Linked DNA regions of Homo sapiens. The protein of the gene in region 1 interacts with the protein of each later gene in a biochemical or structural test. Each region holds a gene or a part of one and is shown on either strand. Other genes may lie near its edges.

Evidence for each region. Proteins that work in one complex are often made in the same cells at the same time.
Region 2: the proteins of FOXO3 (region 1) and TERT form a complex in vitro, tested with the Homo sapiens proteins (one study listed by BioGRID).

What each region holds. Positions count from the first base shown.
Region 1 is NC_000006.12:108,555,946-108,563,929, reverse strand, and holds the start of FOXO3 (forkhead box protein O3), read right to left. Parts: upstream 3,014-7,984; 5' UTR 2,722-3,013; coding exon 2,101-2,721; exon of another isoform or gene 1,907-2,100; coding exon of another isoform or gene 1,787-1,906; intron 1-1,786. UniProt on the Homo sapiens protein: Transcriptional activator that recognizes and binds to the DNA sequence 5'-[AG]TAAA[TC]A-3' and regulates different processes, such as apoptosis and autophagy.
Region 2 is NC_000005.10:1,285,060-1,292,081, forward strand, and holds part of TERT (telomerase reverse transcriptase), read right to left. Parts: intron 1-7,022. UniProt on the Homo sapiens protein: Telomerase is a ribonucleoprotein enzyme essential for the replication of chromosome termini in most eukaryotes. Active in progenitor and cancer cells. Inactive, or very low activity, in normal somatic cells.

The sequences.
Region 1 (7,984 bases):
ACCATAAAGTTTATGACTAGTCCCAAAATCTGTATTGCAAGTCCTACAAACTATATGAAAATGTATCTAGCCCAATCTCAATTCGCGGCTACTTTTGGTAATACCATTATCTCATGTAAATCTTCCCCCCAAAAATAAAGTTCATTAAACTTATTATATTTAACTATAAACAAAATAACAAGAAATATTTGTGAAATTAAATTATTTTTGTAACCTTAAAAATCACAGGAAAGGTGAAAACGCCTTCCTACGTTAACGTTTTAACTAAGTTTAAAGTTAACTAACTTTTCACTAACGTATTCTCCTCACCAAATTCAAACATGCAAGACTAAATTTCAAGTGAGAGAAATCTGAAAAACATTTCGAACCCCCAAATCCATGTTCTCAGATCCTGTCCGCTTACGCCTTCCTGATACTATACACTGATTAACCCTTCCCATCCACTTGGAAACCCAGTTTTAAAACATATCACACTAGTGCTCTTTTCAAATGGAATTGTCTAACTTTCATCCTTTCTGTAAAGAACTCTCGTATCATACACCTGGCATTCTTTTACAAAGCAATTGAATTAAACCAAATATAAGACTCATAATGTAAGCATTTGTTAAAAGAAATGAGACACATTAGTGGATTAATATCAAAGCACACGTGTTTTGCTTTTAAAGTATCTAATACAAAGCCTCTCTGATATAAGCCGTATTTAACTTTGCAAGGGTTTTCTAGAAGCAAAATAAAACATTCTCTACATTAAGTTCTTTAACTTTTTCATCTACAGGCTCGTCTCCAGTGCTTCCATTGAATTCTCCACTAAGATTAAACTGTTCTTATTTTTATACCTCCTGAAACCCAGGAAGACAGAGGGCTCCCCAATGACAATGAAGAAAGGGAAGGAGGAAGCAACTACTTCTTTTACATAAAACAAAACAAAAAAAAATCTAAGCTAAATTGCAAATATGGGCAGCTGATAAGAGATGTATATCTCCAATCGCACAGGACTCTTTGGCCTGGTACTGACACACACTGTCTTGGGGGAAGGGGCCAGGGAGGTGCCTAGGAAGAGGAAAGCAGCTGGATATCAGCAGCCCAGCAGGGGCAGAGGAGTTAATCTCTTTGGATACCCAACTGCAGGAAGTCATTACATCATAGGCCTTTCCACACCTCTCTCCCTACCACGTGTCCCGTGCCCCAAGAGGATGATAAGGAACGGTAGAGAGTCTCTCTTCGGGTTCATTTACAGGTAGAAGCCATTACGGCCCGGCCCAGCCCCCAAACCTCCTCCCAAACGCCAGAGTGAATGAAGCGCAGGCCCCGCGTCCCCCACACCAGAGCCCTTCCCTCAAACAGTGCCTGAATCCAGGCCTCGGCGGGAGCAGCGGGTGCAGCCAGTCTGGATTGAGGTGGCCAGACCGGCCGGTTCGAGGCCCCAGAACATTTCAGAAGCAGCTAGTCAGAAGCAGGTTTACTGGAGCGACATCTCCGAGAAGAAAAGGTATCAATATAGGCAAGGAAAGGAAGCCGTCCAGGAAAAGGTTTGCAACCACTGCTTTTTCTAATCGGATCGATGTGCCTGTAGGTGTTAACACCCACAAGCTGAAACTTGGACCCGAAGGTTCTCATTCAGCTAGTGACGACGCAACATGCTCCTGCGACAGACTGGAAACCACACATCCAACCCCTCCTCCAGACACTGCGTCCCAAACACCCCCACACCTCTCACTCCAGCCACAGCGCCCGCACCAGACCCCCACTACGGTAAACTCTACTCCAAAGTTGGCTGCGGACCTACCTCCTCGGTGCTGTCCGGAGAATCCAGCAAATGTACTCCTGTCCGTTCGCCCTTCCCTCGCCGGCGTCCCCTGCCCCCTCTCCTCACCTGGCCATGCCCCAAGCTTCTGGGGAGCCTCATTCACCCCTCCGAGACCGTCCCCAGGTGCCCCGACTCCGGGGATCAAAGATAACCCCCAAAGCCTCGCAGCGGAGGCTCCCCCTGCCAACCCCTTGCCCTGGAGCCCGCAAGCGCACTCCGACGAATCCGAGACGCGTCTCGCGCTGCGCAGGAGGCCCGGCGGGTCCTGCTGCCAGCCCGGGGTGGGTACGCACCTTCCAGCCGGCAGAGCTGTTGCTGTCGCCCTTATCCTTGAAGTAGGGCACGCAACGCACCATCCACTCGTAGATCTGGGACAGAGTGAGCCGTTTGTCCGGGGAGCTCTCGATGGCGCGGGTGATCAGGTCCGCGTAGGACAGGTTTCCCCAGGCGTTCCGCCGCGACGAACATTTCCTCGGCTGCCCGGAGCCCCCAGCCGCCCCCGGCTGCGGCGGTGGCAGCGGTTGCTGAGGCTGCAGCAGCGCCTGTGTACCCCCGCTCAGCCCGCCCGCCGCGGTGGCTGGCCCAGACCCGGGGTCTTGCCCTCCGGGTGCCAGCACCCGGGCCGAGTCCTCAAGGAGCAGCCCGGAGCCCAGCGTGCCGCTCCCGCCGCCGCCGCCGATCGCCATGGCCGAGCCGGCCCGTCCCCCGCCGTCCTCGTCGTCTTCATCGTCCTCCTCCTCGGGGATCATGGAGTCGGCGGCCGTCTCCCCCGAGGGCTTGGCAGGGCTCGCTTGGAGCTCCGGCCTTTGCAGGGGCCACGTACAGGATCGCGGACGGCTCTGGGGCTCGAACTCCGGGTCCAGCTCCACTTCGAGCGGAGAGAGCGGGGCCGGGGAAGCCGGTGCCTCTGCCATCTTCGCCGCCCGCCCGCCCGCGGCTGGGGCTCTCGCGCTCTCCTCTCGCGCCGGGGCGGGGTGCAGCGGGGGAGGGACGTGGACGCCGCGAAGGCTCCGGCTCCCGGGCGCCGCCGCCGCCGCCTGGGGAAGCACCAAAGAAGAGAGAAGGAGAGTTGGTTATCCCGGGCCGGAGCCCCGTCCTCGGCGAGTCCTCGCCCGCTGCCGCCACCTCCCAGTCCTGCCGCGCCCGCCTCCCAGGAACAGGAGGACCTGAAGACGTGCGGCCAGCGAACCTGGCGCAGCAGACACCGCCCCCCGGCCAGGCCGCGATGGAGCCGCGAGCGAATCGACGGCCTCGCGCGGGGCAGCCCCCTCCCCCCGCCGCCCAGCCGCAGGTCCCTCCCGGGCTAGGCGGCGGGGCGGGGAGAAGGGGGAGGGGCGCCCGGGGGAGGGGCGGCCGCGCCTTTAAAGCGGGCAGCGGCCGGAGCTGGCGCAGCCGAGCCGCGGTCAGAGCCCGAGCTCGGGTGTGCGTGCGTTTGTTTATGTTTCGCTCGGGCCCGCTCTAGTGCCTCCCGCGGCGCCGCCGCTCAAGTCTGTGCTGTCTTCGGCTCTTCTCCCCTTTCCTAGCCTGGCCGCCTCCGCGACCCCCCGTCACCCCCCACCCGGTCGAATGGCCCGAGCCCGGGGACTGCGCGGGCAGCTCCCTCTCCCCTCTTCGCCCGCGGGCCAGAGGGCGAACGGGGGTCTGGGCGCAGATGGGCCCTTGTCACTTCCAAAAAATAAAGGAAAGACAGAAAGAAGGGGGAGCAGCAGCCCAGCGGGTGTTCGCAGAGGTTCGAGCCCGGCGGGGACGGCCACTTCGGGGTTTTGTGTGGTTTGCATTCTCGCGGACGTCGTCCCCTCCGCCCCCTTCCCAGTCGGGATCCGGGGGAGGGAGCGAGTCGGAACATAAATCTTCCAACAGGTCGGGAAGCGCCAAGTCTCCCGGGCTGCTAGAAAACCCGGACCAGCACGTTCATCACCTCCTTGCTCCCGCTGCTGCCATCTTGACAGTTTCCCCCTTCCCGAGTCCTTTAAAAACACTAGCGGGCGAGAAGGGGGGCGCGCACACCGCGGCTCAGGGAGGGGAAAGGGAAGCGCCCGGCCCAGCTCGGAAGCAGATCCGGAGTCACCGGGAAGGCGGCCGCCCGCTGCACGGCTCCGGCGCCTACCTCGCTTCCTTCCCTTCAGGGACGCGGCGGGACGACGCACGATCCCGCGCGGGCCCGGGGCACGGCGAGGAGGGGGCGCGCAACCTCGGCGAAGGAGAAGCGCTCGGGCCGTCGCCGCAGCCCGCCCGAGGAACCGCCTGTCAGCTCGCGCGCCGCCACCTTCCACATTCCTCCTCCTCCCTTCCACGAGCAGGGCGGCCGCGGCAGCAGCACAAAGTTATAGACACACGCAGGGCGCCTCAACCTAGGCTGACGGCGGGCGGGTCCCCGCCCAGGGGGAGGGCTGGGCGGCGGGCTGGGCGGCGGGCCGGGCGCGCGGCGGGCGTGCGTGTGTGAGTGCGCGTGTGTGAGCTCGCGCGCGCCTGCGCGGCCCGGCTCCGCGGGGCTGCGGGCGTGGGTGTCCGGGCGCGCGCCGTGGGCCGGGACTCGGCGGGCTCCCGCTGCTGTCCCCGCTGGGCTCCTCCTCCCTCCCGAGAGTCTCAACGACAACAAAGCGCGGCGCTGGCCCGGGAGAGGAGGGAGAAGGGGGGAGAAGGGAGGAGAGGAGGAAGAAGTGGGGAGAGGAGGGAGAAGGGGGAGCGGCAGGAGCGCACAGCCCCCGACGCTCCAAGGAGCGCAGCGGCGTGGCCTCCCTGACTCCGGGCAGGGCGCCTGGTACCAGGGGGTCCCTGGCCTGCGCGTCCGCCCGCCGGGCTCTGGGCCAGCCCCGGTGTCCGGTTCCCTGTTAGAACGCGACACCAGGTAACACCCGAGATAAGATGCTGGCCGCAAGATGGGCAGGGTTATCGCGGTGTGGAAATACTGAACGGCGAAGATGTTGGTGCCTGCACAACTTCGATAAGCTGATGCTCACAGATTCGATCAGGCACCAAAAGGTTTGCACTGAGTCTCTCACCTCGGACGGTGGACCACAGTCGTGTTTCACTTTTCATGGGTTTCATGGCAAACGGGGGAGAGGTGTAACTAACTCCGGAAGAAATGCAAATTTACCCCCGTCCTACATTCAAGAGCAGATTCCGAACAACTGAGAAGGGGAAATAATTTTAATCTAATTTGTAAATGACGACAAAACCGCTACGTGGGCATTTTTGACTTTTAAAAAAAGACGTATCCTTTAGGTTAAACGAAAAACATCTGCACAAGTCCTTATTCTACGATCCGTGCCCCAAATCGTTTATTTGTACTCTACGAATGCACCACACGCGACATGCACACCAAAAGTCTACACACTAGTTCATAAATATATTTTTTAAAAAATCCTTGTAAGTCACCGGAGATAGCTCAGAGTGTAGAAGCGGGCTCCTCAACGACCCCATACACAAAAAGGTCCAGCCCAGCGTACGCAAGAGCCAGCCCGCCCAGCCGCCTCCGGGCTCCGGGCTTTGCGCAGCGCCCGTCACTCAAGTGACGCGCGGCCCCGCCCCTGCACCAAGCTAGTTCGACGCGTACAAACAGATGATGTCATCGTATCCACACGCGCGTGACCCCGGAGCTCTCCGCCGCGTCGCCATTCGCTGCGCCGCTTACTCGTCAAGGCACGCCGCGCGCTGACTGGCCGCGGCCACCAGTCTCCAGGCCCCAGACGCCCCTCTCCGCCCCCCCGCCCCCGCCCCCCAGCAAATAATAAACAATCGAGTAAAATTCTAAGGAAGGAGAGAGAGGAGAGGGAAAAAGGGAGAGGGCGCACTAGAAACCAATCCTTCGCGCGCTGGCGGTGGGAGGGTTCAAGGGGGGACGCGAGAGGACAGCGGACGGGAGGAAGGCAGCCGACTTGGGGCGGTGGGTCTGCCAGCGAAGAGGAGGCGTCGGGGGAGGAAAGTTGCAGCGCACTCGACTGGGCGCGCCTGGCGGGGTAGGGGGCGCTAGGGCCCGGAGCGGCGGGGCTGGGGGCTCGGGGGCGGGGCGCGACCCGCCGAGGGGGCGGGGACTGAATGGCGCCGGCCGACACGTGCGGGAGGAGGGCGGGCGCGCGCCACACACACTGGGCCGGGGCGCGCGGCCCTGGTAGCCGCGCGCGCTTGTTTACCAGCGCACGTGGGTGTTATTTTTAAATGGAATGTGGCGCTGGCTGCGCTGCCGAGTGGCGGGCGCGTGGGGCCGCCCGCGCTGGCGGAGGGACGCGGCGGGGCCCGCGGCGCGGCCTCTCCGGGCGCTGCTCGCGAGACAGCTAGGCTGTCCCCACTGCGCGCCGCTGGCATAGCCGGCGGCCCGGGCCGGGGAACCTGATTGAGAGTTTCGCGCGCTGCCCGAGCCGCGGCGGAGACGACGGTTTCCCGCCGCGGAACGCCGCCGTCTTTGCGCCCAGCTCGGCTCCCTCATTCTCACATTCAGGGAACAAAGCCTCCTGTTTGTGCTTCGCCCAGGAGGCCGCGCCAGTCCGCGGCCACGGTTTCTAGAGCAGATCTCACAAGCTGCACACACTCACTGGCACACATACTTTGGCTGCGAGGTGGACCCTCAGCACCCTACGTACTCTGTGTCCTCGCTTCCTTGTACCGAATGCCCGCAGTCCACATGTGCCTGTCTCGTGGGCATGCGGCTCTGCCCACATATAAAAGCGTTTCTGCTATTTCGGGTTGCCCTTGGAAGGGGGAGTCTGGGGAAGGGGGCTCTGACTGCTTACTGCGGTGGCTCCTCCTCACGAGGCACCTCTCCTCTCCTTGTAGGCCTGTCCCACTGAGAAGCCCCAGGTTTGCATTGGGTTTACAGCCTGGGAGTGTGGATGGTGATGTATGACCACAACTCGGCTTCAAGTGCCAGTGCTTGGGGTGCGGGTTGGGTATGGTGGTGGTTAAAAGCTGGTATTCAGCTTTGCACGAAGAACTGGAAGGCTAGATCACCCAGGGCCGCGCATCGTGATGCAGCATAAAATTCCAAGAATTTTCGTTGCTGGCTTTAAATACTTGTAACACTGTAGAAGAAATCCACGCGTTTTCTTCTCTAAATCTAAGCAATCTTTTGTCATTAGAGTGCAGACCTGCAAAAGTAGAAAGAATGTGTTTACAGTGGCTGGGCTCTCGGCCATTAGATTTTCACTATAAACATGTTGAGTGTCCATTTACAGAACACATATCCCAGGGGCATTCCAAAAGAGTGGAGGAGTCAAAGATTCAGTGGATTAACAGAGCCTTGTGAGCTTCACTTCACAGTGAGGAATGGGGGGCAGGCACATGATAAAGCCATTTCCCTCAAAGAGCTTACTTGAGGGTATAAGACATGTTACTTGGGGGTATAAAACATGTTAAAAAGAAATATTGCAAGTTTAAAAATAGTAGAAGGCCGGGTGCAGTAGCTCACACCTGTAATCCCAGCACTTTGGGAGCCCAAGGCAGGAGGATGCCTTGAGCCCAGGAGTTCAAGACCAGCCTAGACAACATGACGAAACCCAGGTGTCTACAAAAATACAAGAAGTCCCAGCTATGGGAGGCCGAGGTGTAAGGACGGATCGCTTGGTCCCAGGAGGTCCAGGCTGCAATGAGCCATGATTGTACCACTGCACTGCAGCGTGGGTGACAGAGTGAGGCCCTGTCCTCCCTCCCTCACCACAAAGGAAAAAAAAAAAAAACAGTAGAAGACAAATACAAGAGGTCATACATAGAGTGTTGGGTAAGTTTCAAGTGAATTGAAGATCAAAAAGCTTCACTTGGAAGTGACTATAAACTTGCAGCTTTGTAAATGTGCACCTTACCCTTGTAATTTGTGCATATGGGCAAACCTTTGAGAACTAAGAGGTTGAATCTCAGAGACTGTTCTCTTTTAGCCACAAATTGCCTCGACCTTTGCCTTCCTCTTGTAGGCCTCCTTGTTCCTTCTCCATTTCTTCCTACCAGAAGTTATGGTTGTTAATTGAGAGGAAATGCCAGCATTCCCTTCAAGGCAGAATTTTTGGTCAAAACTTTTCCCACCTCTTATTGAACAATTTTATATCCTATTTATTTCTATTAATAATTTAAGGTGGTGATTGTTCACTCTATTTTGCAAATCCAGTCACTGGAGGGACAAAATTTAAGATGTTTACCTAAGTAAGCTGGGTAAAAATCACCATTTCAAACACCTAGTTGTGAGGGGAT
Region 2 (7,022 bases), on another chromosome or scaffold:
GAGACCTCACCCCTGACCTGCACCATCCAGACACCACACATCCAGCTCACAGCAGGGCCTGGCGACCTCACCCCGGACCTGCATCATCCGGACTCCATACCTCCAGCTCACCGAGGGCCTGGAGACCTCACCCCTGACCTGCACCATCCAGACACCACACATCCAGCTCACAGCAGGGCCTGGCGACCTCATCCCAGACGTGCACCATCCGGACACTGCACATCCAGCTCACTGAGGGCCTGGCGACCTCATCCCGGACCTGCACCATCTGGTACAACAGCCATGGCCATGGGAAGCCCAGCAGGTCCAGGCCGAGATGGCCACGCACGGGACCTACACACGGGATCCCGCAGACAAAGCTCAAAAAATGTCAAATGTCCTGTGAGTGATGCTCCCACCAATAACACCCTAAAATGATGAGGTGTGGACATGCTGGGCTTCAGTAAAATCTATTATTACATTAATTTCACCTTTTCTTTTTTACTTTTTTAATGTGGCTACTAGAATTTTTTTTTTTTTTTTTTTTTTTGAGACAGAGTCTCGCTGTGTTGCCAGGCTGGAGTGCAGTGGTGCAATGTCGGCTCACTGCAACTTCCAACTCCCAGGTTCAAGCAATTCTCCTGCCTCAGCCTCCCGAGTAGCTGGGATTACAGGCACCCGCCACCACGCCCAGCTAATTTTTGTGTTTTTAGTACAGATGGGGTTTCATCATGTTGGCCAGGATGGTCTCGACCTCCTGACCTCGTGATCCACCCGCCTTGGCCTCCCAAAGTGCTGGGATTACAGGCGTGAGCCACCGCGCCCAGCCTAGAAATTTTAAAATTATCCACATGGCTCACGTCATGCTCCTGTTGGGCGACAACGGCTCGGAGCCTCATCCTTTGTCCTGGTTCCCAAGCAGAAGGGAGGAAGCAGACACTCCCCCGCCAGGCAGCACCGTCAGAGCTGGCGCCACACCGCAGGTTTGCGCGATTTCAAACTCGACACCGCGGAGCCACCAGACCCCGACATGCCTGGGGTTTTCCAGGCTGAACCCAGGCCGAGCGGACGTTGCTGTCACTCACTGGCTAAGGAACGCTGGCCACGTGGTGCTCCAGACACTCACGGGCCAAGATGACCGCCCTCCTCGTGAGTCTCCACATCTTCATCTGTGCATCATAAGCAGAGGTCCCCGGACGTCGCTAGATGCCATGGAGGCCAGCACAGGTAAAGCTGGGGTTTACCAGCAATAACAAGACAGAAGAACCACGCAAAGGACAAGGAAGGGGACCCCAGACGGCGGGCCTGAGACAGAAGACAGACGGGGAACAAAGGAGGAAAAGCAGGGCGGGGGCAAAGCTACAGAAACACTCAACACGGAAAACAATATTAATAATGCTTAGCTTGTGGGGGTGTCAAGATGCCTGAGATAGAACTAAGTCAGCAGGGAAAACAGCACACAGGCTGGGGGGTGGCCAGAGCTAAAATACACTAAGGGTCTTATTGCTCAGGACAAGGGTAGCAATGTTTCAGACTTCATTTTAAAAGATCAAGGTATGCCGGGCACGGTGGCTTGCACCTGTAATCCCAGCACTGTGGGAGGCCAAGGCGGGCAGATCACTTGAGGTCAGGAGTTTGAGACCAGCCTGGCCAACATGGTGAAAGCCTATCTCTACTAAAAATACAAAAATTAGCCAGGCGTGGTGGTGGGCGCCTGTAATCCCAGCTACTCATGAGGTTGAGGAATGAGAACTGCTTGAACCGAGGAGGCAGAGGTTGCAGTGAGCCGAGATTGTGCCATTACACTCCAGCCTGGGTGACAGAGTGAGACTGTCTCAATAAACAAAAGCAAACAACGACAATAAAAAGATCAGGGGGTAACACTAAGCAAAGAGAAATAAAAGCAAATGCCCAGTGACCAGGAGGCAACGAGAGGATCAACACACACTCGGCAGGAAACGCACATGGCAACCCAAGAGGTGGTGAGAAACAAGGGAACGAGGACATGCAACAGGCAAGTGGAGAATCAGAGTGCACCAGGCGGGTCTCTAGTGACAAAAAAATGAAAATAAATCAGGTTATCCAGTTAAACAACGACTGTCAGACTGGATTGGAAATTCACCTACATGCTGTTAACAGGACATACCCACACTATAAGAATATAAAAGTGTTGAAAATTAGGCCAGACATGGTGGCTCATGCCTGTAATTCAGCACTTTGGGAAGCCGAGGTAGATGGATCCCTTGAGTCCAAGAGTTTGAGACCAGCCTGGGCAACACAGCAAGACCCTGTCTCCAGAAAAAATTTAAAAATTAGCCAGGTGTAGCGGTGCGTGTCTGCAGTTCCAGCTATTCAGGAGGCTGAGGTGAGAGGACGGCTCAGGCCAGAAGGTAAAAGTTACACTGACCTGTGATCACACCACTGCACTCACCCTGGGCGACAGACCAAGACTCTGTCTCAAAAAAAAAAAATATATATATATATATATAAATTAAAGGCAGAAAACAGACACAGCAGGAAAATACTAATCAAAAGAAGCCCAGTGTGGCAGTACTAAGAGCAATTTAAAAAAAGAATTACTAGATTACTAGAGACATAGAAGTCTCCAAAAGATTCACTCATCAGGAAGATAAAAATTCTACCACGTGCATGCACCTAACAATGCCTCACATAAATGCTACCAAACGAGAAGAAATGAACAGACCCATCCCCCAGGTGAGGGACTATGGCCTCCTTCTTGGAATTTCATGCATCTAGAAGGAGACAGAAGCTTTGCACTGGACCTTAATAAGCTGGATATAGTGAACATGCATGCCCACTATTGACAGGATGTCAAATTTACAATGGACAGTTCTGGAAACCATGCACACACTAGATCACAAAGCAAGGCTCCGCAAACTTCAAATAATTGGTATTATACAGACCACTACACAACTGAGTTAGAAATCAATAATAAAATGATAACTTAAAATACTCTACGTATCTTGATACTCTACATATCTTGAACATAAACAGTGTTCAAATAACTCACTGCTCAAAGAAATCACAGAATAAGCTAAAGAATACTTAAAAGTCACTGATATCAAAATGATTTCACGTCAAAACACAGCGTGCACAAAGAAAAAAATCACAGAATAAGAATACTTAAAAGAAGTATTAACACTTTGAAGTATTTTAAGAACACTTGAAAGTGGCTGATGTTGAGATTACTTCACATCAAAACACAGGGTGCAGGTAAGGCAGCACTTAGAGGGAAAGGCATGACTAAACTAAGAAGCTAGAAAAGGAATGAAAGAATAAACCAAGAAAAAGCATACAATGGAGAGATAGAAACGTCAGAGGTAAATCAGTGAAATTCAAAACTAAGACCCAAGAGGGAAGTCTGACGAAGGCTGGCGGAGACACCGGCCCTCCACGTGGGTCTCAGAGCAGGAGACAGACAGAGACACTCCAACCTGTGGCTGGACGTCAATCCATGTGAGGGGGCGACTGGAGGCAGAGCCCAGCCTAAGCAATGAGCGGCAGGTGCCCAGAATAAGGTGACAAGCGTTGCCACCCACCCAAGGGGGCCAAGCAGAGGGGCAGCTTGGGAGAAAACAGGACAAGTGAGGGGGCTGGGGTGACTTGCTTTCCTTCAGGGCACAGAGAACCCTTTCTGGGATGTCTCCAGCAACACGTGGCAGCAGACACAGGCAGCCCAGAGTCCAGCCTCGGCATGAGACAAGCTGGGAGAGGAGTATTGGCAGCATGCATGTGGCGGGCACGTGGTGAGCAAGCCAGGCCCAACAGAGGCAAGCGGACCTGAAGCTGTGGCTGCAGTGCCTGGCACGCGGGAGGCGAGAGCCTGCAGTCCCGTGTCCCCGTAGCAAAATGGAACGGAGAGGTGACCAAGAAGAGCCGAGCATCAGAAAAGATAGGCTTGGGGACCAGCACTGCGCCTGCACCATCTACCCAGGCAATGGGCAACCGGCGCAGCTGTGGCTATAGAAAGAGCAAACATTCAGGAGCAAGCTCAAGTGAGCAAACGCCAAGGACACCTGGGGACAGAGCCTCACTCACCCTACACGAGACAGGGACACCCAGGGACAGCGCCTCACTCACCCTGCACCTGAGAGGGACACCCGGGGGCCGCAACTCACTCACCCTACACGTGACAGGGACACCCGGGGACGGCGCCTCACTCACCCTACACGTGACAGGGACACCCGGGGATGGCGCCTCACTCACCCTACACCTGAGAGGGACACCCAGGGACGGCGCCTCACTCACCCTACACGTGACAGAGACACCCGGGGACAGTGCCTCACTCACCCTACACGTGACAGGGACACCCGGGGACGGGGCCTCACTCACCCTGCACGTGACAGGGACACCCGGGGACGGCGCCTCACTCACCCTACACGTGACAGGGACACCCGGGGACGGCGCCTCACTCACCCTACACGTGACAGGGACACCCGGGGACGGCGCCTCACTCACCCTACACGTGACAGGGACACCCGGGGACGGCGCCTCACTCACCCTACACGTGACAGGGACACCCGGGGACGGCGCCTCACTCACCCTGCACGTGACAGGGACACGCGGGGACGGCGCCTCACTCACCCTGCACGTGACAGGGACACCCGGGGGCCTCGCGTCAATCACCCTGCACGTGACAGGGACACCCGGGGACGGCGCCTCACTCACCCTGCACGTGACAGGGACACCCGGGGACAGTGCCTCATTCACCCTACACGTGACAGGGACACCCGGGGACCGCGCCTCACTCACCCTGAACGTGACAGGGACACCCGGGGACAGTGCCTCACTCACCCTGCAAGTGACAGGGACACCCGGGGGCCGCGCCTCACTCACCCTGCACGTGACAGGGACACCCGGGGGCCGTGCCTCACTCACCCTGCACGTGACAGGGACACCCGGGGGCCGCGCCTCACTCACCCTGCACGTGACAGGGACACCCGGGGGCCGCGCCTCACTCACCCTGCACGTGACAGGGACACCCGGGGGCCGCGCCTCACTCACCCTACACGTGACAGGGACACCCGGGGGCCGCGCCTCACTCACCCTGCACGTGACAGGGACACCCGGGGGCCGCGCCTCACTCACCCTACACGTGACAGGGACACCCGGGGACAGTGCCTCACTCACCCTACACGTGACAGTGACACCCGGGGACCGCGCCTCACTCACCCTACACGTGACAGGGACACCCGGGGGCCGTGCCTCACTCACCCTGAACGTGACAGGGACACCCGGGGACGGCGCCTCACTCACCCTACACGTGACAGGGACACCCGGGGACGGCACCTCACTCACCCTACACGTGACAGGGACACCCGGGGACGGCGCCTCACTCACCCTGCACGTGACAGGGACACGCGGGGACGGCGCCTCACTCACCCTGCACGTGACAGGGACACCCGGGGGCCTCGCGTCAATCACCCTGCACGTGACAGGGACACCCGGGGACAGCGCCTCACTCACCCTGCACGTGACAGGGACACCCGGGGACGGTGCCTCACTCACCCTACACGTGACAGGGACACCCGGGGACCGCGCCTCACTCACCCTGAACGTGACAGGGACACCCGGGGACAGTGCCTCACTCACCCTACACGGGACAGGGACACCCGGGGACCGTGCCTCACTCACCCTGCACGTGACAGGGACACCCGGGGACCGCGCCTCACTCACCCTGCACGTGACAGGGACACCCGGGGACCGCGCCTCACTCACCCTGCACGTGACAGGGACACCCGGGGACCGCGCCTCACTCACCCTGCACGTGACAGGGACACCCGGGGGCCGCGCCTCACTCACCCTGCACGTGACAGGGACACCCGGGGGCCGCGCCTCACTCACCCTGCACGTGACAGGGACACCCGGGGGCCGTGCCTCACTCACCCTGCACGTGACAGGGACACCCGGGGACGGCGCCTCACTCACCCTGCACGGGACAGGGACACCTGGGGACCGCGCCTCACTCACCCTGCACGGGACAGGGACACCCGGGGACAGTGCCTCACTCACCCTACACGTGACAGGGACACCTGGGGACCGCGCCTCACTCACCCTGCACGTGACAGGGACACCCGGGGACAGTGCCTCACTCACCCTATACCTGGGAGGGACACCCAGGGACGGTGCCTCACTCACCCTACACGTGACAGGGACACCTGGGGCCGCGCCTCACTCACCCTACACCTGAGAGGGACACCCGGGGACAGCGCCTCACTCACCCTACACCTGGGAGGGACACCCAGGGACGGTGCCTCACTCACCCTACACGTGACAGGGACACCCGGGGACCGCGCCTCACTCACCCTGCACGTGACAGGGACACCCGGGGACAGCGCCTCACTCACCCTGCACGGGACAGGGACACCCGGGGACCACGCCTCACTCACCCTACACGTGACAGGGACACCCGGGGACGGCGCCTCACTCACCCTACACCTGAGAGGGACACCCGGGGACAGTGCCTCACTCACCCTACACGTGACAGGGACACCCGGGGACCGCGCCTCACTCACCCTGCACGTGACAGGGACACCCGGGGACAGTGCCTCACTCACCCTGCACGGGACAGGGACACCCGGGGGCCACACCTCAATCACGCTGCACGGGACAGGGACACCCGGGGGCCGCGCCTCACTCACCCTACACGTGACAGGGACACCTGGGGGCAACGCCTCACTCACCCTGCACGTGACAGGGACACCCGGGGACCACGCCTCACTCCCTGCATAAGCCAGGGGCAGATTGTGACCTCATCTGAAGTCAGAGAACAGCAATGACAGGCAGAGTCCTGATCAGAGAACTCAAACTCTCCTCAACGAAGGAAGCTGGAGCACAAAAAGCAAAACTGGGTTGCATGACGCTTATCTGACTCGGCGTGGTCCACCTGAGCCGCAGCAGGTGTGAGGCAGCTGCCGTTCGATGGGTAGGGACTTCCAGTCACGCAAGACGCAGCATTTCAAGCAACCTGCTGTAAACACCGCCGAGTTAGCAATTCTGCACTGTACACAGAAAACGGTGTT